Regions from separate parts of the Homo sapiens genome. Here all the other regions are linked to region 1. The links come from fine-mapping of genetic effects on gene expression. A gene starts in region 1. Each other region holds a variant in brackets. All regions are shown on one strand. Distances are from middle to middle. Region 1 holds the start of HOMER1 (homer scaffold protein 1). Region 2 overlaps LOC124901013 (a long non-coding RNA gene). Region 3 holds the start of LOC124901013 (a long non-coding RNA gene).

Evidence for each region. PIP is the estimated chance that this variant, and not a neighbour inherited with it, causes the effect. A credible set is the group of variants that fine-mapping cannot tell apart.
Region 2: its variant is the best candidate, but not a certain one, in a credible set for the expression of HOMER1 in thyroid (GTEx, PIP 0.76).
Region 3: its variant is the best candidate, but not a certain one, in a credible set for the expression of HOMER1 in liver (GTEx, PIP 0.75).

The regions. Positions count from the first base shown.
Region 1 is chr5:79,508,147-79,519,218 of GRCh38, reverse strand. It overlaps HOMER1 (homer scaffold protein 1), which reads left to right and starts at 5,085. Exons shown (of 9, transcript NM_004272.5): 1 at 5,085-6,449. The coding sequence starts at 6,445. It also overlaps the pseudogene RPL29P15. RefSeq lists enhancers at 4,363-4,552, 4,261-4,808 and a silencer at 4,803-5,512.
Region 2 is chr5:79,535,262-79,543,984 of GRCh38, reverse strand. It overlaps LOC124901013 (a long non-coding RNA gene), which reads left to right. Exons shown (of 2, transcript XR_007058839.1): 2 at 1-199. Among named protein-coding and RNA genes, the nearest start is that of HOMER1, 25 kb to the right of the region's middle. The variant T/C (reference allele first, on the strand shown) is at 3,224.
Region 3 is chr5:79,545,147-79,554,859 of GRCh38, reverse strand. It overlaps LOC124901013 (a long non-coding RNA gene), which reads left to right and starts at 7,225. Exons shown (of 2, transcript XR_007058839.1): 1 at 7,225-7,406. LOC105379047 (a long non-coding RNA gene) reads right to left here and starts at 7,287. Exons shown (of 3, transcript XR_948497.3): 1 at 7,216-7,287. The variant C/T (reference allele first, on the strand shown) is at 5,605.

The sequences.
Region 1 (11,072 bases):
GAGTTCTAGGTCTTGCTTCTGCCTGCTTTAGCCATAAATATAATATCTATCCATTATGTTCTGCTTCAGAGAGTTTGCAATTGCCATCTTAAAGCCCCATCTCTCTTTGAAATGCTCCAGAATTTCTGCCTCAGCCTTGTCTCTCTGAAAAGAAGGCCATTTCCTTCCATAAGAATGATTGTCCTAAATACCTTGTGGGTTGTTTTTGTTTTAGTTGGCACCATAACAGTCACAAAATAAGGTAGTTCATTTAAAACATTTTCCTCATGGTTGTTCTGTTCCCCCATTCAGGAAAAAGACTATTGGTTACCATGGCAATCAGCTTCCACAGCATTCCATTCTAAGTAACTGCACAGGTACAGCACAACCTTTACTCCACATTCTTTACTGTAGTTCTCTGCAGATCTGCGTATTTTTCTAGCCTGTTTTCTCTAACTCCTGCTTAAAACAATCAACCAACCAACCCAGGTTAAGCCAGACAATTTTTTCAAAGGTACCTTATCCCCATCTTTTCTGAATATTTTAAAAATGTTATATAGACAGTTGTACTACCATTTCCTCTAATTTTGTTCTATGTGGGCCCTCAACAGCAGCTAACTGAAAACTTTCTAGTACCCTCTTTCACTATCTAGGATTACATTTGTATCCCTCTGACCATATTTGGAAAATGAATTTACAGTAAAAATCAGAGCAGGAGGTAGTTCTGAGATCATTTCCCATGGCTATCTACCATAGTTTTCCTAAGGCTAATTCTTTAGCTTCCTTTCCTCTACCACTTTCAAACCTCTGTAATAAATTGTCCTCAAGCCTTGCCTTGAAGATGCCAAACACTTGTGTTCCCACCCTTCAGACTGTTTAACTACTTTGCTTCTGTTCAGAACATTACTGACAATAAAAGATGGTCTTATTACAGGCCATACACAACTCAATGGTACCCGGTATCTGCTATATAATGGAGGAAGTGGGATGATTTTGGAGAGTCACTGGATAAATTCTGTTTCCCTGCAACTCTTTCATTCTTATTACGTTTACTCTTTGCTGGTTAGTTTCTTCATGACTATGTATTATAAACTAGGAATTATGATATTTATTTTATATAGAGAGATATCTTTTAACTTATTTTTCAATCTGACTTTATTTGAATTGATAGTGGTATTTTGGTAATTAAAAGCAAGTTGTTATTATCTAATGTAAGGCAATTAAAAATAAAATCTGGCTTTTACTCTCTTTCCTGCAAAGGTTTTCTATCTCTTAGATGTCTTTTCATTGAAAAAGACATATCTCATGACCAGTGTATGAACACCCCATTGAAGATTGCCATCTCCTATTAAGGGCATGGAAATAAACTCTGTAACTAAAACAGATGCCTTCGCCCACAGATTCTAAAATCAGAGGGTATTCATAAACCGCCCTACAAATTTTCAGAGCACAGTGGGAAACAGGAACTGTTAAAATCTGAAACTCTACTAAAGTACTTTCTTCCTCTTCCGGTAAAAGAAAATATATTACTTTCTAGGAAGTTTACTATTTTAAAAAACATACAAAAAAATCAGGGTTGGGAATTCACAACTAAAATTTGGGTTACATCAGCTCATCTTAGGAGAAAAGATATTTATTTACTTACAGATGGAAAGCCATGGAATGCCTCTCTGACTCCTCTTAAAACTGTATTGGAATTGTTTCAAGCAGGGAGAAAAGGCTATTTTTTTCTGAGAAGACATGCCATATTACATAAAATGTTTCAAAGTTTTACATATTCTTTTGACTACATGGACACATGTACTTACTGATCCTGATCCCATATAAGCTGGCAAGAAATTCATACCTATAAGTAATAAATTATAGGTAGAATTTTCTAGATTGAGGCTGAAGTTAAATAATTGCATAAACTTTGAGTAATTATATCACAGTGCACCATTCAATTTATGTAGAAAAAAAGCTGCTCTCAATTTTCAGTTGATAAAAGAGCAGCTGAGAAGAGACGATGTGGTTGTGAAAAGTAGAAACTAACAAAGGGTCAGCACTCTAAAGGCAGGAAAGCAGCTGAAAAGCTGTTTTGACAGTTGGGTAAAGATGAGGGGAAAAAAGACTGTAAATGAGAGGAAGTTGTGATGAAAGGGTAGAATAAAGTGTTTGAAAATGGTAAAGTGAGAGCTTTAATTAACATGGAGAGAAAGAGCAGGAAAGAGAGAAGTTATTTAGTTAGGTAGGAAATTGTTTGTAGAGAAATTTTAGTAGTGTAATAACATAATTTGTATTTTAATTTGCCAAGGGATGACATTATTGGAAGAATGATAGTTTTATTGTTTTAACATTTTAGATATAAGAAGCTCCATTTGTCTGAAATACAAATTGGTACAAGTTTCGATTAATATGATAATAATATACATTAGACAAATTGGCAAGCAGGGATTTGCCTTTCATTAACCTTTTGTTATAACCTTAAAACAAACAAACAAAAAGCAAAACAAAAAAAAACGACGCGGTCGGGCGCAGTGTCTCAAGTCTGTAATTCCAACACTTTGGGAGGCCGAGGTGGGCGGATCACTTGAGGTCAGGAGTTTGAGACCAGCCTGGCCAACATGGTGAAACTCCGTCTCTATTAAAAATACAAAAATTAGCCGGGCGTGGTGGCAAGTGCCTGTAGTCCCAGCTACTCAGGAGACTGAAACAGGAGAATCACTTGAACCTGGGAGGTGGAGGGTGCAGTGAGCCAATATCGTGCCACTGCACTCCAGCCTAGACAGCAGAGCGAGACTCCGCCTCAAAAAACAAAACAAAACAAAACAACGTAAAAAACTAGGGTGAGCGCTGTGGGTAATGCCTGTAATCCCAGCACACTGGGAGGCCGAGGCGGGTGGATCACCTGAGGCCAGGAGTTCGAGACCAGCCTGGCCAACACGGCGAAAACCCATCTCTATTAAAAATACAAACATTAGCCAGGCGTGGCGGCGCGCGCCTACAATCCCAACTACTTAGGAGGCCGAGGCACGTGAATTGCTTGAACCTGGGAGGCAGAGGTTGCAGTGAGCCGAGATCGCGCCACTGCACTCCAGCCTGGGCAACAGAGCGAGACTCAGTCTCAAAAAAAAGACTTAATATTTCAAACTTCAAGCAAGATCATAATTTTATAATGTGAAGATGACCAGAGTGTTTGAATCAGTTACAAATGGGTCTTTTTTGTTGTTGGTGGTGTTCTTTAATCTTGGACTCCTAACTTGAGCAAGAAAATGTAAATACAGAAAGCTGCAAAACCAATGTTCCTTAATTAGGAACCATGTGAGTAGTTTAACATTACAAACAGTTTCTAAAAGTCACACGTGGTATACATTCTAACGAGTTTTAGCTTCTTTTATTTAAACTGCGTTGATATTGATCTATAACTTTCCTAATAATCACTTCATAGGTTGGTAATCCTATGTTTTGGATTTTCCAGGTCACTTCAGATTCAAATATTTTTTCCTAACGTCAAATGGTGTGTCTAGATTTTGGTCTGGAAAACAGGGTCACTAAATTTGTAGACTAACTTGAAACAGTATTGGCCTTTGGCAATACGCAGCAATTCTATTTCTTGGCCATGCTTATCAAGTTAAGTAAAATAAAATCAAAGTTCACTATATGATTTACCTAATTAAAAAATTGTTTTAACCTAATTACTTTAAAATAATTTAAAAACTCTGTAGTAATTTACAATGTAAAAAGCACTCATAATATGGTGTTTATAGACACACATAGCTAGTAAACCTATAGACAGCTACTCACCCTTGCCATACAGAAAATGCAAAACACACTTAAGAGATATTGTAATTACATATTATGTGGTCAAAACTAAAGAAGACGAAAATATGCTTGTGTTAATGAAAAAGGATTTGGTGCTCTTTCTTATTTTTAATTTTTAAATTTTAATTTAAATTCCACAGACTGAAACCCATATACTTTTTCTCTTTCTTGTTTTACTGGCTGGAGCCAAGTGTCATGGAACTCATATTCTTGATGAAGAGAAACTGAGAGGACACACTGGCATTTGCTATACGTGAACTAAGATTGACTCATTTTCCTATGTCAAAACTGCTATTTTGCAAATAAAATTACTATCCTTTATAACATTATTTCGTTTGCTTATTGCTCTGCTCTTTATTCTTTCGTGTTTCAGGTAACCACTAACAAAAAGTTTAAAAGTCGACTATGTCCAGAATGGCACTCTATAATTGAAAATTTAGGTGATTTTTCCGAAGTCCTGTTGGAAGCACATCTACCAGCAGTGTGATCAGGCTCTCCCTCCCACATTTCCCTGCTAGTCAGGACAAGAGAAGCCCGGGGGTGCTGCTGCAATAGCGGTGGGAGTGGGAGATAGGCTATTACCCGCTTGACACTGCACTTTTGCTACGAATGATTCACTCAGGTTTGGCACATTTGTTGCAAGGAAATCTCCTCCTCCCGCCGCTTCCTTGTTCGAGCTCCTCTCGGGCTGTCTCCTGTGCTTTGGCCTTTAAGGAGAAGTGAGAGCAGGTGGGCACACAGGAGCTCGCCGAGTCCTCCTCCCCCTGCTCCTTCCCTAATTTAGCAGTACTTCCGGCCGCGTGACATCATCCCCCGCACCTCGGTGACGTGAGCTGCGGGTGACGTGTGTGCGGAGAGAAGCGCGCTGACGTTGCTATTTAAAGGTCCTCCTGCGGGGAGGATGGAGACACAGCGCGAGCACCTGGTGTGGGGCGCGGAGGAGGCTGTGGCGGTCGGGAGCGGGGCCAAGAGCCAGAGGAGGAGCAGAGCGCACGGCCAGCCAGCCGCCAGCCTCTAGGGGAGGGGGGAAAAGAAGGACGAACGGACTGAGGGCCTGCCGCCGGCCCAGCTCCCCACGAGGGCCGCTCGGCCCCCCACCATCAGCCTCTCCGCCGCCTTGCGGCTGCTGCTTTCTCCCGCGGCCCGCTGCTCGCAAGGCCCGTCGGGCTCCCGGGACCAGTCCGCGCCCCAGCCCCCGGCCGCGGCTCCGCGGCGGCCACCGCCTCCCGTCCCTTCCCGCGAGCAGAGGGAGGGACCGCCCTCGCTCCCCGTTCTCTCCGCCCCCTTCCCGCCCCCCGCAGCCCACTCTGCCGCCGCGCTAGCTTCACGCCGGCGGCGCTGACCGGGAAAGCAGCACCCTCTTCTCTGCCAGCCGGCCGGCCGGCGGAGGCGGAGGCAGCGGCAGGCTTCAGGCCGCCGGGGCTGGCGCTGCTCTGCCCGGCGGTAGCCGGAGGCGGGCGCTGATGGAAGTGTGAAGAGGCGGCGGCGGGGCCCGGGGAATGTGAGGCGGCGCGTGGCGGCGGCGCGGAGCGTGAGAGACGAGGAGTAGGGGTGGGGGCGCTGGAGCGGCGGCTGCGCTTCGGCTTCGAGCCCAGCTCTCCTGGCCCCAACGCGGGCTTAGCCTCCCGCCTTGGCTCGGGCAGGCGCCCGTCGACCCTTCGGCCCCTTTCGCCCGCCCTGGAGCTGGGGGCAGGGTGCCAGTGGAAGCGTGGGGCTTGGCTCTGTGATTCATTCATTCTCCGCCGACGGGAGCCTCAGACCCGCTGTGCTCTGAAGAGAGGAGGGAAGAGGGGGCAGCCGCGAATGAAGGGCCGGGCACCAGCCGGGCTCCATTGTGCTCGGCGGCGGGGGGCGGGAAGGGGCTGAGGGAGGTGGGATCGGGTCCCCTCCTCCAGCTCTCCGGCGTGCGCTGCGCCCCCAGCCTGCTGCCAGCCTGGAAATGGCTCCGTTTATTCTCTTCGGGAGAATGAATCGATCCTGCCTAGCCTTCTCTTCGTCCTCCCCACCTCTTCTCTGCTCCGAGTCTTAGGAGGAGAAACATTTAAAAAGACAGATTCCAATGTGGAGTGCCGTGCAGGTTGCGAGCTGCCGGGTTTGCACTTCGAGGAGATTTTCCTGTGTAGTTTTTTTCCTAATGTGAGCGCAGGGAAGCCGTGGCATTACTGCTTTTGGGATTTTTATTCACGTGCACGTCGCGTTTGGTTGCTCGCTCCACCCCCGGAGACCTGGTGTGGTGGAGAAATTTGAACCCGCAGCCTTAGCTCCGAAAAGGCCGAGTTACCTGGCTCTCCCTGAGTGTCGAGGAGGACATGAGTGAAATGACCAGCGAACTCATTTTTTATAGGACTCGGTGAAGCCGGATTCTGCATTTCCCTACTTGTAGACTCATTTTGTGGAATAGAGTTGATCGCTGTCTCCTCCGCAAAGCATTTTAACTCGAATAAGCAAATGCCGCCTCTGTTTGAACGTTTTGGTATTTACAAGAGAGAAATCATTTTACCTAAGAGAACTAATTGAATTGGCAGCATCCTTGAAATACCTCCGGACAAGGATCTGGGGGTGGGGGTGGAAAAGCAACTGCGAAATAGCAGACGGAGAAATTCCTTTGGAAGTTATTCCGTAGCATAAGAGCTGAAACTTCAGAGCAAGTTTTCATTGGGCAAAATGGGGTAAGGATTTTTGTGCTTAACACAGCTTCGAATCTGTTTATGTATGTGTATTATTGAGCGGTGGTGGTGATTGTGTTTTGTGTTTTCAAACAAACTTGCCACCTTGCTAAGCTGGTCATACTTTAAAGAAATAGGCATGCTAACCTTTTAGGTTATTTTTGCATTTTTGTAGAGCGGTACCAGAGGTCATAATTTAAAAACACATATATCGTTTGTAACTTGAATATGGATTTGTGAGTAATGTTTACAAAGACAACGCATTCTACACTTTACTGGTCAGACTGCTGCATCAGTTTGTAATCAAAATCACATTATTTTAGCTTTTGCTGACGGTTATCTTTCAAAGAGAAGTACTGCATTCTCTCAGTACTTTTAGATAATCAGTTGCACAAAGGAACGATTTTAATGAGTGGTTAGACAACAGTCCTTGAAAGTGATCCAGAGTAAATTGTTGCCCTCACCGTGCCCTCTGTCTTGTCCTTGAATATTCAAAGCTAAAATGTATAGAATTGATTTACTGGGGCGTTAAAACGAAAATCTGAAATTCAGTCTTACTGATGCGGTCACCACGGTACGGGTGCATTTCGTAGGAAAAAGCTTTTTGTTTAAGGAACTTGTTCACTCCTTTTGTTTTTCGCTTTTAAGCTCAGCCCTTCAGTTTGAGTTAACAGTATCAGATCTACACCTTCCTTCGGACCCAGAGCCAACTGAGAGTGCATTTTCCAGTCTTTTATTAACTCTTCACACTGTGGGTTGATGAAATGCTAGTGACACTTCCTAATTTAAGCTGGAAACCCATAATATATTAATGGAGCAATCTGATTTCATTGACAGGTTGTCACTGCTTTTTGGCAGAAGAACTTCCAGAATTTTCTCTTTTTGTGTGTGTGTGGTTGAACAAACACATCTGAAGTGTAGTTGAGGGGCATGTTTTAAAGAATGGACTCTGCAATTCATCGTGATGGTTTAGGTGTGTACACACGCTTGAAACTTTCTGAGGAAAGTTCTTGAATAGTACCTTCCTTTTGGAGTTAGAATTTGAAGTTTAACATGCATAACTTTGAAAATTTAGAGCATGTTGTAGGAGACGTTCCTCAGAAATTAATGACAAAGTTATAATGGTTTTAAAAACTTGAATGACAAGTGATGAGAATATATATAACTTGCATGATTTGGGGGTACCGCTAAGAGTAATTAAAATACCTCATTCTATTTCTAGCGCTGCTATTAGTAGCTTAGTGATCTGAGGCAAATTACTTGACCTCTGTGGACTCTATTTCTTACCTGTAAAATGAACGATTTAGAGATGACTTAAAGATTTCTCCAAACTGTAAAAAACGAATTGCTTTCTTTTTATTCTCCTCCTCATTTTAATGATCACTAGTTGGTTTCTGCAAGTCGATCTTTCTGATGGAGACCTTTTTCACTCTAAGCAGTTTAAGCGCTTAACGCTGAAAAATAATGGCATTTGAAAAATGTTTTGGATGAATTGCACCAATTTTAAATGAGAAAAATACTGAAAAATACTACTGTTCAAAACCTTAGAAATATGGCTTCCCTTGAGCATCTGCAGCTCTGTTTAAAACATGTTGGAGGAAAAAAAATCAAGCAGCAGTTTTTCATGTTGATGGCTGCATTTTGTCTAGACTGTGGAGTAGTAGCATCATGGAAGAAAATCAGTTTTCCAGAACCTTTAAGCTGCATGAATGCCTGTCATTTTACCAAGGGAAGCTTAGGATGAATTTTTTTTTCCCTGCCTGAGGTTTCTTTGTACAAATAGCACAGGAGGACCCCAGCCCCACAGCCCCATGCAGATGGCAGCCTGGCGGGGGGTCGCACCAGTCCTGTCCTCACGTTGGCAGATAGAGATATCTACTCTGAAGCCTCTGTAGGGGCCTGGGCACCTTTGGGAGCCTGAGCTGGAACTGAAGCTGGAGCTGCAGCCTGGGCCTTGGTTTGATCCTTGTCCTTGGCCTTTGGCCAGCACACCCTGAGCCCCTTGGCAATGCGGGCACGAGCATGCTTCCCAAGCTTGGGGTGGACAGTGTAGGCAAGTTGAGCTTGCGGCTGACACCCTTTGGGATCTTGGGCTTAACCTCCTTGGGCTTTAGGAGGGCCTTGATAGCCTTGGCATGTGCACTCATGGCCTTGGCACTGTTAGCCTGCATCTTCTTTAGGCCCTTCTTGTTGTGTTTCTTGGCAAACTGCATGTTCCTCAGGAACTTGGGGTCCACCCCCTTAAGAGATTCGTATCTTTGTGCTTCGGGTTTCTTGATACCATTTCTGTGCCATTTTTGGGACTGGTTGTGTGTGGTGTGGTTCTTGGACTTGGCCATGTCTGCACCTTAAGGCGCGGCTCCTGAAGCGCCTAGAATCTGAAGAGACAGGATGAATTTAATACTAAGGGGGCTGTTGTTTAAAGTGGGAAAGTTAGCACCACACATAACATGCATTTAGACACTTAGCATAATTAATTTGTTTATAAATGAATGTATCTGCCCTTTAGTTAATAAAGTTCTATATATGGACTGAGGAGAAAAAGGAGCGAGCATTTTGTGGTGCTATTTTTTTTTTTTTGGAAAGCCTGTATTTGGGGCTATGACCCTTTCTCATTGATAGTGACTTGAGTAGAGAGAGGAAGGGTAGATGGAAGTAGAAGAGCATACAGCAAAGGCATTTGCTGACGTTTCCACACTTTATGCGTATTTATGCCTAATAAATGTTTGTGGAATTAGCATAGCTGCCTGGACCTATTTCAAGCAAAAGGAAACAGGGCTTTAAATGGCTTTTAAAGCTTTACCTTGGCAATCCATAATTACCTTACTGTAATAGATATCTAAAATTTAATACTGTGGGTAAAGTGTTTCACATATTACAACCTTCTTTTTTTAAACTAATGTTAGGTTATAATAAGGATTTATCTTCGTCTTAATTGTAGATAATTATTGCAAGTCTAGGGGCAGTCTAAGCAAAGGAATTATTTTTAATAAAATCAGTGATTGGGCAGAAAAAAATTATGGCTCCCCTAATAGTAGTTTATGAACTTTTTGGAAATGGAGAAGAACAGCTGAAACTTGACAGTTGGCAAAGTCTGTCAAAGTATCTTGGATGTTGCATGAACTGTTAATTGCAGTGAAGGCAACTAAAGTATGGGTTTGTAAAATAGGTGTATCAGATCCCCTAAAAATTAAGGCATTCATGTATGTAAAATGAAGTCTCTGAAAAGTTTTGAAGCCTCAGTGAGGAGCCCCTGTTAGGTATGACCCCCACCCCCACCTCCAAATAGTATCTCATAATGACAGCAGTGAGTCAGTAGCTATTTCAGAACTATCACAGTAGGCAACAGAAATCAAGTAACTTCAACCACTTATTTCATGAAACCCTTTGTTTTTACTTAGCTCATTTTGGCAACCTAGTGCCATCAGCAATGGTAAAGAATTCTTTCCCTCCCTTCCCTTATTAAGAGCTACTTATACATAAAATGGGGCTCTCCCTGCTAATGGAATCTGTTAATGCTGTTTCTGATTTATCTCACCTGCCTATGGGAACTTCTGGAGTCCTTCCTTCCCCTCTTTCCCCAAATAACTTCCAGAAGCATGGAAATGAGTGCTGCTACATTGCAGCCCAAACTGAGTCTCTTTGCTGAAAGATGGGAAGCTGACACCTCCTTCTGCCTCAAACTGCAGGGTTCTGCTCTCTAGGGGTTGTAGCAAAAATGTGAAAATCTTGATCCAGCACTATAAATGGGTTTTATTGCAAAGATAACCACCCTATCATATCTGACAATAGACAACTTAGATGCAAGTCCTTAATTCGTCATTTGTTCATTTTACCAACTTTGAACCTTTGTTATAGTGCGTGTACTTACCTCAGTGCTGCTGATAGGAAGGCCAATACAATGTGCTCCTTCCCTTAGTGAGTTTATACTTTGGAAGTTGGGCAGACAGTCAAGCCTAAAATTAAAATGTGCAATGAAATTTTGTAGGAGCTATAATGTAGGGCATTATGGAGACACAAAGTGTGTGTTGGGGGGGCATTAGCTGCTGAGGGAAGGATAAAAAGGCTTTGTAGAGGAGGTGATAGTTGTTAAATACTGAAAGATGAGTACAAGTGAGCCTCTTAGACAAATAAGAGGGCATTCAAGGCAGAGAGAACAGTGATTGACACCACTAAAACGAGGAACTGCAAAGGAGTTTGGCATGACAAGCTTGTTTGCTTGAGCTAGCTCCCTTTGGTGTAGCAAGAGATAGGTCTAGAGCCTTATTATGCAGGGACTGGGTTGGAGAACCATGTAGATCAAATGAAAGATTGGATTATCCTGTAGTTTAGTGTGTTTAGAGGTTTTTTTGGCTATGACCCGTTGGAAAGATAAGCATCTTTACATTGCAACCCAATATGCTTGTATATAAATGATAAAATGTCACTACATAATACCCTTGCTTTGTATGGTACACTCTGGTAGTTTCTATTCTGTTCCGTTCTATTTTATTTTTAAGATAGACTGATGATGGTGACCCACTCAATTTATTTAATGACGCTGTGTTAGCAACTGGTAATTTGAAAAGCACTTCTCTTCTGTGTGAAGATTACTAAAGGGTTTTAAGCAGAGTAAGAACATGATCA
Region 2 (8,723 bases), 26 kb before region 1:
AAGACTACACAGCAAGTAAGAAGCAGAGCCTGAGATCGAGCCTAGGCAGTCTGGCTCCAGTTTGTGCCTTTATTTCCCTGTGCCACCATCTACAAGTTAAGAAGTGCCTTTTTAATTTTTGGCCAATGTTTTTGATGGGACTGCAAGTATGTAGAATTTAATGACTATTTTATTTAATAAAATTATGTATAATACTTGACTTTGATACTAAGTCAATTTGTACTTTTTCAGGACTTCTAAGTTGTTAGTTCTTTGATAAAATGATTATAGGATTACAATACATTTTATTTTGTGAATAAAGAATGAGAAACAGGCTGGGCACAGTAACTCATGTGTATAATCCTAGCACTTTGGGAGGCCAAGACTAATGGATTGCTTTGAGCTCAAGAGTTTGAGACCAGCCTGGGCAACGTGGCAAAACTTCATCTCTACAGAAAATACAAAATTAGCCGGGTGTGGTGGCACGTGGCTGTGGTCCCAGCTACTTGGTAGGCTGAGGCTGGAGAATTGCTTGAACCCAGGAGGTGGAGGTTGCGTTGAACCGAGATCACGCCACTGCGCTCCAGCCTGGGTGACAGACCAAAACCCTGTCTCAAAAAAAAAAAAAAAAAAAGAATGAGAAAGATGAGAAGGTGCACTCCTGCTTCCTCTCATCTTCATGTGAAATTCACAGTCATCCCTCAAAACCAGTGTATACACATCACCTCTCATGTGAGGCCTTCAGTTGTAGAGTTAATTACTTCTGCTACTGTTACAGCTTATATACATATCTATAATTATACTAATCACACTGCATTGTAATTATTTGTGTATCTCATTTATGACCTATGCTTGACAGGAAAGCCTGAAGATAGGATCTATGTTTTATTCATGTGTGCATTTGTGTAATAAAGTCAACAAATTTTAATTGAACTGTATTTGAGGAAAAATCCTTATATTTAAATGGATTTCTTTTTTTTTTTCTTTTTTTTTTTTTTGAGATGGCATCTCACTCTGTTGCCCAGGCTGGAGTGTCAGTGGCGTGATCTCGGCTCATTGCAACCTCCACCTCCCGGGTTCAAGCAATTCTCCTGCCTCAGCCTCCAGAGTAGCTGAGATTACAGGTGCCCACCACCATGCCCGGCTAATTTTGTATATTTGGTAGAGACGGGGTTTCACCATGTTGGCCAGGCTGGTCTCAAACTCCTGACCGCAGGTGATCTGACTGCCTCAGCCTCCCAAAGTGATGGGGTTACTAAATGGATTTCTTTTATTTGAAGTGTTTTTATTCAGCTGATCATGCAGATTTAACATGAGAGAAATTTCTGGAAGTATATGATCACTGATGGCTACTCATAAAATTTTTCTTATTTGAAATACTGTGCGTGCAAAACTATGGAATAACTTAGCTGTATTCATACTAAAGAACTGTAGCCTTTACAACATGAAATATTTACAATCCATTCTTCTAACATTAATAACTCTACCATTTAGCTGGGCGCAGTGGCTCACGCCTGTAATCCCAGCACTTTGGGCGGCTGAGGCGGGCAGATCACGAGGTCAGGAGTTGGAGACCAGCCTGACCAACATCGTGAAACCCCGTCTCTACTAAAATACAAAAATTACCCAGGCGTAGTGGTGCGCGCCTGTAATCCCAGCTACTCAAGAGGCTGAGGCACGAGAATCACTTGAACCTGGGAGGCGGAGGTTGCAGTGAGCCAAGATTGCGCCACTGCGCTCCAGCCTGGGTGACGGAGCGAGACTGTGTCTCAAAAAACAAAACAAACAAAAAAATTCTACCATTTATTCTAAAATTACATTTATTTACCATTTATTCTTAAATCTTATTGAGTCTAAGTTTTAAAGAGTTATGTGGAGCAGACGCAGTGGCTCATGCCTACAACCCAGCACTTTGGGAGGCTGATACAGGCATATCTCTTGAGCCCAGAAACTCGAGACCAGCCTGGGCAACATAGCGAAACCCCTTCTCTACAAAAAACACAAAAAGTAGCCAGGTATGGTGGCATGCACCTGTAGTCCCAGCTACTCAGGAGGCTGAGGCAGGAGGATTCCTTGAGCCCAGAAAGAGGAGGTTGTATTGAGCCATGATCTCACCACTGCATTCCAGCCCGGGCAACAGAGGAATACTCCATCTCAAAAAATAAAAATAAAAATTAATGAGCAAATACACATCAGATTTTAGTGGAACAAGCAGCACAGCGCTGCAGCTCAATTATACACATAGAAACAAATACATTTATGTAACAGCTTATATTTCACCACTTAAGCACTGCTTTTTATAAGAATGAAAGTAAAGTAATACATTGCATAATCTTTGATTAAAATTAGTTGAAAACCAATATGGTTCTAACATGCTGTAATTCACCTAGCAGCTGATATTAACAATGAATTTTTTTAAATCCCAAATTTATGTAATTTCTGCTACTAAGCATATTTACATGGCCTGAATTAAAACAGAACTTAAGCTTATGCTACTTCTAACTGGCTTCCTGAGTTTAATATAAGAGCTCTTTTCAATTAAAAATTTTTTGGATCAAGATTTATAATTTATTTTGCCATTCTAAGATAATACAGTTTCATACATTTAAATTATAAACATGTTGGTGTTCACAATGTTTTTAATATAAGCATTATGAATCTTGGAACTCAGATTCCCTAGGGGGCTTTTAGGAACTTGTAGTAAATATTTAATAGAGGATATGAGCTTTCTTTTTTATTTTAATCTTTATTTTTCCAGAAGGGGATATTATTTAATCTATCCATATTTACTCTATATTCCTGTAAGATAACGCCACTAGGGATGTAGTGGACTTATGGAATCTAACGTCCGAATTCTCAAAGGCTCGTTATATTTTGAATGTTTGCCTTAAATGGGATATTGCAGAGTCTGTTGAACAAACAGAAGCAATTAGTCAAAGGATGTCGAAAGAACAATGTTTTTTTCCTTTTCTTTATTTCTTTCTTTCTTTTTTTTTTTTTTTATTTTTTTGAAACAGGGTCTTGCTCTATCACCCAGCCTGGAGTACAGTGGCACAATCTCGGCTTACTACAACGTCTACCACCCGGTTTCAAGTAATTCTCCAGCCTCAGCCTATCAAGTACCTGGGGCTACATGCATGTGCCACCACACCTGGCTAATTTTTTGTATATTTAGTAGAGACAGGGTTTCACCATGTTGCCCAGGCTGGTCTCGAACTTCTGAGCTCAAGTGATCCACTAGCCT[T/C]GGCCTCCCAAAGTGCTAGGATTACAGGTGTGAGCTACCACACCTAGCCTACAATTTTTTTTCTTATGCTACGTTTACAACTAATTGTAAAGATTTCTAAGAATTAATCTAGAAGCAAACTGGTTTTGCAAATTAAGTATTGGAGAATTTTTTTCTTCATGTACAATCTTTGAGATGTAAAAAGAAGCTATTATTTTCATGGAGTCATCTTGTCTAAAAAAAGTTTGTGTTGTTTTTAAATGTGTGGTTTGCTCTATTTTAAAACAATAATAATGGGAAATTTTATTTTATTTATTTTTATTTTTATTTTTTATTATTTATTTTGAGACCAAGTTTCACGCTTGTTGTCCAAGCTGGAGTGCAATGGTGTGATCTTGGCTCACCGCAACCTCCACCTCCCGGGTTCAAGCGATTCTCCTGCCTCAGCCTCTCAAGTAGCTGGGATTACAGGCATGTGCCACCACACCTGGCTAATTTTGTATTTTTAGTAGAGATGGGCTTTCTCCATTTTGGTCAGGCTGGTCTTGAACTCCCAATCTCAGGTGATCCACCTGCCACAGCCTCCCAAAGTGCTGGGATAATAGGCATGAGCCACTGCGCCCGGTCTTGTTTTATTTTTTGAGATGGTCTTATTTTATTTTTTGAGATGGAGTCTCACTCTGTCGCCCAGGCTGGAGTGCAGTGGTACTATATCGGCTCACTGCAGCCTCCGCCTCCCAGGTTCAAGCAATTCTCCTGCCTCAGCCTCCCGAGTAGCTGGGATTACAGGCGCACATCACCATGCCTGGCTAAATTTTGTATTTTTTGTTTTTTTGAGATGGAGTCTCATTCTGTAGCCCAGGCTGGAGTGCAGTGGCGCAAACTCGGCTCACTGCAAGCTCTGCCTCCCGGGTTCACACCATTCTCCTGCCTCAGCCTTCCAAATAGCTGGGATTATAGGCGCCCGCCACCATGCCCAGCTAATTTTTTTTTTTTTTTTTTTTTTTTTTTTTTTTTTGTATTTTTAGTGGAGACGGAGTTTCACCATGTTAGCCAGGATGGTCTCGATCTCCTGACCTGTGATCCACCCGCCTCGGCCTCCCAAAGTGCTGGGATTACAGGCGTGATAAATTTTGTATTTTTAGTAGAGACGGGGTTTCACCATGTTGGCCAGGCTGTTCTCAAACTCCTGAACTCAAGTGATCCACCTGCCTTGGCCTCCCAAAGTGCTGGGATTTCAGGCTTGAGCCACTGCACCCAGCCAATAATAGGGAATTTTTAAAGTCACCCGTAATCTCACCATCCTAACAAAATAAAATTTCATTATTTTATGTTTCTGCATCAGATTCGTTTTGCATGTTGCTAGACAGTCTATAGCATTACAATTTTAATAAACTCATAGTTCCTCTCTCTTTCTCCCTCTCTCTCTCTCTCTCTCTATATATATATATATATATATATTCAGTCATCAATCAGGCATTTTTATCAAGTATGTAAATGGACGAACACAGGAAAACAAGGGAAGGCAATCATTTGTCTTTGAAATGGCTGAATCTTTTAATATCTCCCTTTGCAGACAATCCACACTCTTCATGCTTTGCTTCTGACAGGAAATAACAAAGCTAGCCTTGGTCATTACCAGTACTACCTTTCGTGCAAGTCCAAGTTGACCTTGTTCAACCTACATTCTAGCCATTTTAGTTGATTTCTCTCTGGGGCTTAGAGTACATCAACAAACATGTGGACCTTTGACTTGTTGGTCATGAACGAAAGCTAAACATCTTACAAAGGTATAAAACTCATCTTTGTTTCAGCTTATGTTAGCAGGAAGAGTTGTTTCAGCCCCATGGAGACTCTGAACAGTATTTTGAACTTATTGCCTGGTGCTTCAGAGCAATGGGATCAATATTTGGAGGCATTTTTTCAAATCTTACAATTCCACATCAACCTCAGCAAGTCGAACTAAACTTTATTTGGCCTTAACAATTCAAATCTTCAATATTTCTTTCCAGAGTTTTGCAAGTCAATCATATTTGCTCTTCAATGTGTTTAGGTTTTGTTTGAAGCATGGGTCTTTCATCGTTTGTAATCTTGACTTTTTATGCTCATGAAAGTAACGTAAGCTCATTATAAAAAGTTAAAACATTACAGAAATATTGTAGAAAGTTAAACTTTTGTGATGTGGCGAGCCGTTGTTAATAGAGAAATAGCAGATATTCGTCAATAATGTTTTCCTTATTATTAGCACATATTCCTAAATAGACTTTTTAAATTTCTTGACCATTATATAGCTCTTAGAAACATACTCATCATACATTAAATATTGTTTTGCACATCGTGTTTATCATCTTGTATCTCTTGGCTCTCTTTCCATGTAAGTACTTATAAATTCTACTTCACTCTTTTCATTAGTCACATAGTATTCATGTATATATATACATACATATATATATATATACACACATACATATATATATATATATATACACATACATATATATATATATATATATATAATAAATCCATAATGATGGACATTTGAGTTGTTTCCAGATTGGTTTTATTTGTTTCTTTGTGTTGTTTTGTCATACCAATGCTGCCGTGAATATCCTTTTAAATATACCTGTATATATGTGGAACACAGTATTTTAAAGCTTTAAAAAGGAAAGTAATGAACTCATACTGTTTAATGTATTTAATTCTTGTTAGCAGTTCATCTTACCAGCCTACCAAACGTGTAATAAATATTCCAAAAATTTTGTTCAATATCTTTAGTTCTCGAAGATAACTGCAGTTTTCTAGAATTTAAGAATATTGTCCTACAAATGACCTTCCAACATGTTCTTTTATGACTCACTGAATGATAGGAATAATGATTCCTTGACCATTATATAGCTCTTCAGTTTACAAAGCACCTTCAGATAATTATCTCATCTGACTCTCACATCAATGTGATGTATGCAGGACAGGTTTATAGGAAAAAAATGGTGCTGAGTTGGAAATTTTTACTGCCTAAAATAGTTACATAAAGTCCTTTGTTCTGCTAACTCAAAGGGTCAAGTCCACTGTCATGATGGGATTGTGGTATCATATTGGTACCTTAATGTGAAAAAAACACTTCTACATCACTTCAATAACTGATGTTGCTAAATTACTATTCAGTTTTCAAGCATTTTATTTAATTCTCTGATATCTAGAGATTAGGCTCAGCAGGCATTTTTCAGATAAGTGCTCCAGTAATTGCTACTCCAAAACCAAGTATTTAAAAGACATTTATGCAGTAGTTGTTAAAGGTTGGTGAGTTTCAGTATCACTTTTTCTTGTTTAGAATTGGAAGAACAGAGGGTAAAGGTTGAGGGGGGGAAAAGTCCACAGAAATGTAGCACCAACAGGACAGTTCCTGCTAAGACCTTGGAAATTCCTATCCTCACCCATTATTATTTCTGTATCCCTATGATCCTTCCTTTAAACAGTGCCTATAATGATTGGGCACATAATAAATGGTGATGCTTCTCTCATTTCCCACACTCCTGGTAGGAAGCAGCTCCTATACAGGAAGAGAAAATCATTGTCCTGTTGCCTCCCACTTTGAGAAAGGAAGCAATCTTGAATGACACTATTGTTTCCATAGCTACAAATTTACTTTGTCTCATTAGTAAATCTATCTATACCCTCAGTTTAGCTGAGAATGCACTTCTGAATTTCCTCTCTTCCTCCATCTACTGTAACATGTACAGGAACTCAAAATCAGTTCCCAGATCTGAAATCTTAGGAGACTGTATAAGTCCATTTTCTGTTGTTTACAAGAGAATATCTGAAACTGAGTAATTTATAAAGAAAAAGAATTTGTTTCTTACAGTTACGGAAGCTAAGCAGTCCAAAGTTGAGGGGCCACATCTGGTGAGAGCCTTCTTATTGGTAGGGACTCTCTGCAGAGTCCCAAGGAGGCACAGAGCATCGCATGGTGAGGAGTTTGAGTGTGCTAACTCAGGTCTCTTTTCCTCTTCTTATAAAGCCACCTGTCCCACACCCTGGATAACCCATTAATCCATTCATGAGAGCAGAGCCCTCAGGACACAATCACCTCTTAAAGGCCTCTCAACACTGCCACACTGGGGATTAAGTTTCAACATGAGTTTTGGAGACGACACATTTTAAAACCATAGCAGAGATCCAGTCCTCTTCAAGCTCTGCTTGAATATGATAGCAATTTCTAACTAACCATCATCCTACAGAGTGGCTACATTAATATTTTAAAATGAGTTATATTACTTACAGAGAAATCACATTGCTAGTACTTTGAAATTCTGATGCTCTGTTTTTTTCCATCAGTAGAATTATGGGAAGTTGATCTGCCCTTATCCCATCTGTCCAACATTACTTTGTATTGCTCAAGTTGTTCTTGCCTGTCAAGTCTTCACTGTATGGTCTCTTGACTGTCCTGTGTGTAATACCTAGCTCATTCTCACCTCTCTGCCTTTCCTTATATTGTTGCTGTCCTTCAAATCCTTCTGTCTGACCTACCTGAATTCTAATCAAGTTTTGAGAGCAAACCCCCGAGTCACACCACATAAAGCCTTCCTTCCTATGACAGAGAGCCCCACTGTTGTCGGTACACAGGCAGAGATAACTCAACACCTTTCTGCACATTCTGATGTCTTTCCATTCCCAACTTATATCAAATTTGTACTCTTGAAACCAAGCTTTTAAAACAGTAACATGTTTATTGGGTTGCAATAATCATATTAGACACCAGAGTGTAGCATATGCCTTGCCCATTCTCACAACCCTAGGGCCTTCTCTCTGACCCAAAATGGGGAGATACACTGACTAACAAGCTTGGGTTTTAATACATATCTCTGGGCCTATCAAAATACTCCCATTGAAAATAAGAGTCATCAGTTGATCAGTTTCTTACTCATGTAGTGTATGGGAATGGTAGATAGTTCCAGATTGATCAATGGCAAATGCCCTGCTCTTCTTGTTTGACAAACAAATTCTCCTTCTGTACACAAGAATGACCTATTGGCCCTCATGATATTTATATAGCACGTACCTTTGGACACATTTCAGTGACTCAGGGTATTTCGAGCATAAATATCCCATAATTGGTTGAAATTTCTCTCATACTTTTTTTTTTTTTGTAGAGACAGGAGTCTTGCTATGTTGCCCAGGCTGGTCTCAAACTCCTGGCCTCAAGCTATCCTCCTGCCATGGCTTCCCAAAGGGCTGGGATTGTAGGCGTGAGCTGCCATGCCCAACTTTCACTAATACTTTCTAGTTCACAATAATATATTTCATAAGTCTGATAAATTAAAAAATTCCAATTCAGATAATTTTAAAATGCAGGCACTCCAGCCTGGGCAAAAGAGTGAGACCTTGTCTCAAAAAGAAAACAAAAGAAAAGAAAAGCTTAAAATCTCCCAAATTGGCTCCTCTGACTTGTTCTTCTGTTTCCTTCGACTTCTGTTCTTCTTTCCTTTAAAAAAAAATAAATACACTGCTGGGCGTGGTGGCTCAT
Region 3 (9,713 bases), 36 kb before region 1:
AGCCAGGAATGGTGGCGCTCGCCTGTAATCCCAGCAGTTTGGGAGGCCAAGCCAGGAGATTTGCTTGGGCCCAGGAGTTCAAGACCAGCCTGGGCAACAGAATGAGACCCTGTCTCAACAGCAACAACAAAATTAGCTGAATGTGGTGGCATGTACCTGTAGTCCCAGCTACCTGGGAGGCTGAGGTGGGAGGATCACTGGAGCCCAGGAGATCCAGGCTGCAGTGATCCATGATCATACCACTGCACACTCCAGCCTGGTAAAAAGAGCAAGACTCTGTCTCAAAAAAAAAAAAAAAAAAGAAAGAAACAAAAGAAAAAGAAAGAGTGGGCTTCAAGTTAGAGAAACTAAACTTTAACTCTGGCTCTGCCTCTTAAGTAGGAGTGAGCTTGGGCAAGCCAATTCAGCTCTCTAAGACACGTTCTTTTCTATAAAATGGGAGCTTTTGATAATAGCAGCAGCTCTTCCTCTCCCACAGTGATGATTAAGTGAAAGTGTGTAACTTTTCTTTAGGAACAGTAATTTCCAAATGTTAATGACGGTTTTTCATATCTTTGTTCCTTTTTGTCTATACAAACCTATCAATCTTGACTTTATCAATTATTAAGTCTCGATGATTTTACTCCAAAACTCTCATATCCAGCTCTTCTCTGTAACCCACCTCTGCTGCCGTAGATTCTATAGGAACCATTGTCATTCACCACCACATCACCCCCTCACTCCCTTCCCCCAGCTATTGCTAGGCTCGAATCAAACTACCCTCACATCAGGGTGAAATTTCTCATGGGCAAATGTAACCATGCCTCCCCAGTGCTTGGTATTCATTATGGCTCCCAGTCACCTACAGAATAAAATCTCAAATTTTTCACCATTTGGCCCTGCCTACCTGTTCAGCAAGCTTCATTTTCTGCGGGCTCTTTTTTGCCCTTCACAGACTCATAATTCCAAGATTGTTTTTTTCCTGCCTTTCTGCATTTGCACACTTACTCCTCCCGCCTAGACTGTCCTCCTCCCACTCAGCATCTCTAGTACAATTTTTCTGCAGAATCTTTTCATTCATTGCTAGCAAAATCCTACTTACTCCTCACATCTCAGTTCAAAATGTCCCCTTTTCACATGCTCCTTTCCCACTCTGTTTGCATCTTCTCTATGGTTCTTCATTGTACTTGCTGTGTCCCTGTTAGACCTTTGATACCTAAAGAGGGTTGATCATGTCTTTTTATGTTGCCATCTCCAGCTCCAGCACAATGCCCGCACCTAGTAAACACTTAACAAACACTTAACAATATCTCTTTGTTGCATGAGTAAATATTTTTTAGTATTCTTAACCCCTGGGCTGGTTTCATTTTATCTATCTTATTTTTCTATTTTCACAGGATTTAATCATTTATGTATACCAGTTTAGCATCTTTCTTTTGATATTCGTATAAGTAGTTATAATAACCTTATCTTGGGGCATCATTACTGTATCAAATACATTATTGCTGAAGTCAGGACTTTTGTAATTAAAAGGAACAGATAATCACTTAAGCTAACTCAAGGGAAGGAAGGGCTGCGGCTGTGGGTATTTTTAAGACACTGCAGTGATCCTGTGGTGATCCAAGCACAGGAAGCCTCATGGGAAATGGGGCTGGTACAGAGCAGCTTTTTCATCTCTTGTCATGTTGTGGCATCTTTCTATGCACGTGCTCTAGTGTTTTTCGCTGAGCTCCATCTGTTTTCAATTTCCTGGTAACTTGCCTGTGAATTTTGGCTATCATTCAAGTCCCTGACGTCCTTTCACTCTGCCTCACTATGTCCTCCCTTTTTCTCAAATTTCAGATCCATAAGGGAGAACTCTAATTGACCCAGTTCATCTATTTGGGCCAAGCCACAGTCATTCATTCATTTATCAAATATTTACGGAACACCTAATATGTGCCAAGGACTCATCTCGATGCTGGGGTAAAGACAGTGAAAAAGACAGATAAACATGTCTGCCCTCATGGAGTTTACATTCTATCCACCACAATCAAGTCACTGAACTGGCAGTACGTAGGCCAGACGCTATCTTTTGACATCATCACCCAGGGTGGAAGTGGAGAGGCAGGGTCATGTGGCATAAAACATGGCCACTTGGTCAGCAAAGGTGGGCAGGGCAGATTCCACAAAAGGAGGTGTGGGCAGGCATGGAGGGACTTTGGCACAATTTTAGTTTGAATTTTCTCTATATTATTCAGAATTCCCTTAATTTATTCTCCTTGCTTCCTATATGTCTCATATATGGCTTTAAAAACATTATTTAAATCATACCTTCCTTGATTCATGCAAGGACGTCATGATATCCGAACACATTGTTACATCTTCTAAGTAGGTGTAATCTTGAAAAGTAATTTGAAAGACTTTGCCTTAAGAAAAATCTAAAATTTGAAATGTTTTTCAATGCCTAAAGAGCACATTCCAAGGCAGGATGGTTAACCTTCTACTTTTAATTTAATTGTCTTGGCTCACTTTGCAAGTACCAGATGTTGTTATTCCCATTTATATCTTGTAGTTAGGGAGAAAAAGAAATGACTTTAGAAGCCTTTAATAACAAACCCTAAACTCCATTAAAGTCTATCTTTCTGTGTGAATCTGCGTTTCTAGGATCACTGTGTGCACAGGTGCAGGTCTATATGTCTGTGCACAAGTCAACGTGGCATAGTATTTTCACTGTCTCTTGATATGTCTGTCTTTATTCCTTTGTTCATCTTTTTCTCCTCTACCTCTCCATTTTTTCTCCCTTCTCTTCCCTCAGCCCCCAAGTCTGTTTGTCTCCCTCAACTAACTATGATATAGAATTGAAATCAATGTTTCAGTACTGGTGCCACCACTTCACTGGTTTGCAATGATAGATAAGTACCCCAAGACTAAATTACCATTTGGTAGTATGCCCAAAATTCAGTTAGCTGCCAACAGGTGAGAAGTAATGACTCAGCCATAGGCCCAAATGGCAAGGCTTCTTACGGGACTAGCTCCCACCAAAAATATACCCTTTCACTTACAACTCCATAAGTTACTGAAATGCATAAATGCATTATGTGAAATTCATAATGATGGTGCTCACGTATTTTTTATTAGAAAATGGTCACAATGTATGACAGTATCAAGAAAATCTAACACCCTTCTACAGTCAAGAACTTTTCTCATTAGACTTAACTATAATCAAATACTCTCCTCAATAATCCTCTATTTCAACTAGCCCAGGGTTACTCAGGCCTACACAGATTAAATTTGCCATAAATCTCTTCAAATCAAAAGTCTACAAGGGTCCTGGCTCCAGGACTATGGGACTTTGGACCAATTTATCATAAATAAACTCTTGTTGGTAGTTTTCACTCTGCTTTTATTTTTATTTTAATTTTATGTAAGTATTCATTTATTTATTTGAGATGAAGTCTTGCTCTTTCACCCAGGCTGGAGTACAGTGGTGCGATCTCGGCTCACTGCAACGTCCGCCTCCCGGGTTCAAGCGATTCTCCTCCCTCAGCCTCCCGAATAGCTGGGAGTACAGGTGCCTGCCACCATGCCTGGCTAATTTTTGTATTTTTAGTAGAGATGGCGTTTCACCATATTGGCGAGGCTGGTCTCGAACTCCTGACCTTGTTTGCTGCCGGCCTCAGCCTCCCAAAGTGCTGGGATTACAGGCGTGAGCCACCCCGCCCGGCCTCGTTATTTATTTTTTATTTTATTTATTTATTTATTTATTTTGAGATGGAGTTTCACTCTTGTTGCCCAGGATGGAGTGCAATGGCCCAATTTCGGCTCACGGCAACCTCCACCTCCCGGGTTCAAGCAATTCTCCTGTCTCAGCCTCCTGAGTAACTGGGATTACAGGCATGTGCCACCATGCCCGGCTAAGTTTTATATTTTCAGTAGAGACGGGGTTTCTCCATGTTGGTCAAGCTCGTCCCCAGCTCCTGACCTCAGGTGATCCACCCACCTCGGCCTCCCAAAGTGCTGGGATTACAGGTGTGAGCTACCCTGCCCGGCCTATTTATTTATTTTTAAAGATAGAGTCTCATTCTGTTGCCCAAGCTAGAGTGCAGTGGCGAGATCTTGGCTCACTGCTTCCACCTCCAGAGTTCAAGCTATTCTCCTGCCTCAGCCTCCCAAGTAGCTAAGACTACAGGCGCCTACCACCACGCCTGGCTAATTTTTGTAATTTTAGTAAAGACATGGTTTCACCATGTTGCCCAAGCTGGTCTCAAACTCCTGACCTCAGGTCTCCTGACCTCCTGCCTCGGTCTCCCAAAGTGCTGGGATTACAGGCATGAGCCACTGCACCCGGCCTAATTTTTTTAATCTTTGAGACATGGTCTTGCTTTGTCGCCCAGGCTGGGGTGTGTTGGAACAATCGCAGCTCACTATAGCCTCGATCTTCTGGGCTCAAGCAATACTCCTGCCTCAGCCTCCCAAGTAGCTGGGACCACAAGTGTGTCCCACCATACCTGGTAAATTTTTCTTTTTCTGTAGAAATGGGGTTTCACCATGTTGCCAAGGCTGATCTCAAACTCCTGGCCTCCAGTGATCCACCCACCTCGGCCTCCCCAAGTGCAGGAGGATACAGGCATAAGCCACTGCACCTGACCACTCTGCCTTTTTAAATTTTTATTTATTTTTTTTTTGAGACAGTCTCTCTCTGTTGCTCAGGCTGGAGTGCAGTGGTGCAATCTCAGCTCACTGTAACCTCTGCCTCCCAGGTTCAAATGATTCTCGTGCCTCAGCCTCCCGAGTAGCTGGGATTACAGGCGTGAACTACCATGCCTGGATAATTTTTGTATTTTCAGTAGAGACAGGGTTTTGCCATGTTGGTCAGGCTGGTTTTGAACTCCTGGCCTTAAGCAATCCACCCGCCTCAGCTTCCCAAAGTGCTGGGATTATGGGTGTGAGCCACAGCACTCGGCCTACTCTGCTTTTAAACTCCAAGTGGATCTATAACGGTTTGCTTACAAATTGTAGAAAGCCAGCATTCATTACGTTCTCTAACTCTCCCTGTTCCTTCTGACCTCATCTCTTTGATCTTATAGCAAAAGTGTATGGCAGCAAGAACAGGGACAGAGGAGACAATGTTTTAGCATGATCTAGACTTGAATAAAAATCCTAGGATGATCCTTTTTCAGTCAAAAGGCAATTCTACAACTGTTGACTAACTTCATCTGATTCCTTCCACACTAGTAATTGAATGTATACCTACACTTGCTGTGTATATATTATTGACTCATTTCAAACAACTTTAATAACATTATAACACCTTTTAAAAAAACTTGCTTCTTAGTGTGACACAATCTTGAAGTGATATTAGACATTACCCTCTTGTTCTAAAATATTTCTGTAACACGTTAAACTAACAAGAGTTTTTTTTTTTTTTTTTTTGAGACGGAGTTTTGCTCTCGTTGCCCAGGCTGCAGTGCAATGGCACGATCTTGGCTCACCGCAACCTCTGCCTCCTCGGTTCAAGCGATTCTCCTGCCTCAGCCTCCCTAGTAGCTGGGATTACAGGCATGTGCCACCACGCCCGGCTAATTTTGTATTTTTAGTAGAGACGGGGGTTTCTCCATGTTGGTCAGACTGGTCTCGAACTCC[C/T]GACCTCAGGTGAACCACCCACCTCGGCCTCCCAAAGTGCTGGGATTACAGGCATGAGCCACCATGCCCGGCCAACTAATGACAGTTTTAAAACAATTTGTTCAATTTTTCAACAAACATTTATTGAGTCCCCACTTGTGATAGGCACTAAGCGTATACCTGAGTACAACAGATAAGAATCTTGATCTCATGGAGCTTACATTCTAGTGAAGATGGAGAAGACATAACAAAATAACTAACAAGTATGCAGTATGCAAAAAGATGAAGTGCTATAGAGAAAAAAAATGAGAAAAGGCAGATAGGAAGTTGGAATTGCAGTACAAAATAAGATGATCAGATAGGCTGAGTCTTTTGAGATAGTTGTGTATTTTCTATTCTTGATTTCAAAAGCAGAGAAATGTCCATTTATAATCCTCCTAGTATAAAAAGGTAACTTACTATTTTTAATTGCTCTTGAACTTAAATGCTCTTATTAAGTATCTTTGTGTTGGATCTTCTGCCAGAAAATAAATAAATAAATAATACATAAATAAATAAACTAAACCAGAGCTTAGGTTTTGCTGGTTGTCTGCAGCTGCTTCAATTTATCAACTTAGCAACATTCTACTTTCTGAATTGACTGGCAATTTTGGGCATCAGAAGACATGTACCTAAGAGTTGATAATTCCAGAGAAAGAGAGTACTCTAGATTGTCTGAGACCAAAAAACTCTGGTGAAGCTGTCTGATTTTAGTCATGTCAAGTTAATGCAGAAAATTCTTGTATTTCATGTTGTCCATTTCACATACAACAGATAACAACACTAACCTACTATAACTGTAGTTTAAATTGCTTTCAAGCATATGAGAATGGGTTTAGGTTCTCTATTTCTGTTGCTTTCCTGCCTTTTTTTGTGTACCTTCCTTTTTTTTTTTCCTCTCACCTTGAAAAAACCTCTACTGAGTACCTACTTACCAGCCAAGTAGATATGGGACATCACTTCAGCTTCTATTAAACCAAATCAGTGGTGCTTAACCCTGGCTGTGCACTGGAATCATCTTTTAAAATTACTCATGTCTGGGCCCTGATTCCAGTTAAACCAGAATTTCCAGGGGTGGGACCCAGGCATGAGTACTTATTCATTTATTTACTTATTTTGCAATCAATCATGTTTTCATTTTCTTCTTTCTTTTTCCCTTCCTGTACACCTTCTTTCTCTCTTTTGTCTTTCATTCGTTCACATATGCCTCATATATATTTATAATTTTAAAGATATGCCATTATACTCCACATTATGATTTTTTAAAAATTCCAATTACATAAAAGATTCCAATGCACAGTTTAGGCCAACAATCCCCGAACTTAGCCTACAGGCCCTCAGCAGCCTCCCACCCAGCACCACTGAGGGTGTCCTCAGGAAATCAATCAGTACTTTGTTACCTCTGTGGGGACTTCAGCTTTCACCTCATTCTCTTATTCTTTCAACTCCTTTCCTCCCTCTCCTTTACTTCTTACCCTTCTTGTCTGCTTCTGCCTGAGGCCTGCTGACAGTACCTGCTAACACTGTTTAGCCCTATTGGTGGCCAGCATTAGGTTAGGTTTTCAGCCCCTGTTGCAAAACAGATCTAGTTACCTGGAGATTGCTCACTCATCACTTCTGCGGCTGCTTCTGTGGTTCTCTGGGGCCTCTCCACACCTGCCAGGCTGGCTGCTCTTCATGGCTGGTGCTGCCATGGGCCAACCCCAGGATGGCATGCTTTGACCCTCAGAATTCCCGTCTAAGAAGTGCTATCAGAGCATGTGTGTATGCTCTCACTGCGGCAGGTAAGGCATTTAATCATCATCTGGCCCTTTTCCTCTTTGCCATCTCACTTCCCACTATCACCACCACAGTACTCCCCGGCTGCCATAAACACACGTCACCTTATGTGTGCTATTATGTTTCCCTAGATAAAACCTTTCCTGAATCTGGAAAACTGCATATTCATTCTGCAGAATCCTAACTCAGCTGTTACTCCCCTAAGAAGCCTTCTCCAATCTCCTTGATCACAGTGTTGTTCACATTGTATCCTGCTGGCTTGTGTGTTTATGTTCCTGGCTCCTCCCTAGGCTCAAGGCAGAGGCTGGCTCTTTATTCTAAATGTCTTTAAATAGATAACAGCTTTTCAGTAAACGTTGAATGGAGGAAAATGTGAATAGACCCAAGGAACGTACATGGCAAACTACAGTTAGCTTGTAGACCACATCTGGCCCATCGCTTGTTTTGGTATCTAGAGTTTTATTGAAATACAGCTACACACATTTGTTTATGTATTCTGTGGTTGCTTTAGTGCTACAAGGCCAGAGACGAACAGTTGCAACAGAGACCGTGTGGCCCACAAAAGGCAAAAATATTTACTCTCCAGCCCTTTCCTGAAAAAGTTTGCTGACCTCTGATCTAAAAGAAACCTGAGAAGTCTCCTACAGTAACATATCCAGTAGAAAGATAATACAAGCCATCCAGTTAATTTTAAATTTGCTTGTAGCCACATTAAAAAAGAAAAAAAACTGGTAAAAATTATTTTAGTAATATGTTTTATTTAATCCAAAATATCCAAACATTATCATTTCAACATGCAATTAATATAAAAATTGTTTTGTAGTGAGATATTTTACATTCTTGGTGTGGTACTAAGTCTTTGAAATCCAGTGGGTATTTTACACTTACAGAACATGTTAATTTTGACTAGTTTCACTGTAAGTGCTCCATAGTTACATGTGTGGCTAGTGACTATCTTACTGGGCACTTCTAGATCAAATCCATCAGGTTATAGTTGAAGAAATTGGTCCAGAGAGAGTAAAAGTTTAATCTAATGTCACATTTAGTAGCAAAATTGGGCATTAAACCTGGCTGTCTTCATTCCTAGCAAAGTGCTCCACTGTCACATCATACTAACTTTGGCCTTATTGTTTGTTCACTAGAAGAGATATGATAAGAAGATCTAGTTCCTAATTCCGTACAAGCATTAATAAGTTGTGTGATTTTAGGATATTTCTTAGCTTCTCAGGATTTTCATTTCCTCATCTGTAAAATAAGAGCACTCAACTCACTAAAACTTAAAGGTTTTAAAATTTGAATGGTATATGACAAATCAAACATGTTTGGTTTACAAACCAGAACACACTGCAGTTATTTTGCCTGAGAATTCTTTTCCTAAGAAGCTGTGTGCAAATATGAATTCATGGCTATGTTGACTGTCAGCATAACTTGAGGAATGCTCTCAGAGGCCAGATTTCTGATGGACAATCCATTCACATCGACATTTTAGTAATAAGGACCAAGAGATTTGGAAATGATCCAAGAAGGTCTTCACTGAGGAGTGAAAGAGCAAAGAAGGGACTGGTGTTAGGGCCCATATGGGACAGTGGAATGGCTTCCTCTCTCTGCTAAGCAGCACCAGTGTCTGTCACAGGCAACAGGGCCAGTGAAAGGAAATGAAGCTGGCATATCTTAAGAAATTAGAGGATAGAAAACTGTGACAAAGATTAGATAATCAGATTTGATTATCTATTTATTTATTTATTTATTTGAGACAGGGTCTCACTCTGTTGTCCGGGCGGGAGTGCAATGGCACGATTTTGGCTCACTGCAGTCTCAATTTCCTGGGCTCAGGAGATCTTCCCACCTCAGCCTCCTGAGTGGCCGGGACCACCAGGCATGTGCCAGCACGCCCAGCTAATTTTTTTTGTATTTTTTATAGAGATAGGGTTTTGCCATGTTGCCCAGGTTGGTCTCAAACTCCTGGGCTCAAGCAATCCGCCCGTCTAGGCCTCCCGAAATGCTGGGATTAGCCACTGTGCACAGCTTTTGTTTTGTAAATAGTAAATATTGTAACAGAATCAATGGCTTTATTAAATTTGTACTCAAACCACAGAAGAAATGTAACAATGTAGGAGAAAGACACACCGAAATGGAGAAATGGAGGTGGGCAGGCACCAAAAACAAATGTGCTTTTTAAAAAAAGTTTGCCTAAGATTCATTGTGTTCACTTTAAAACCCATTTACACCTTTCCCCTTCCTCTTAACAGAAACATTGCTTTCCTTCAGGGACTGGAGAAGATTGCAGTATAAGGCAAAAGTATGGGCTTTGG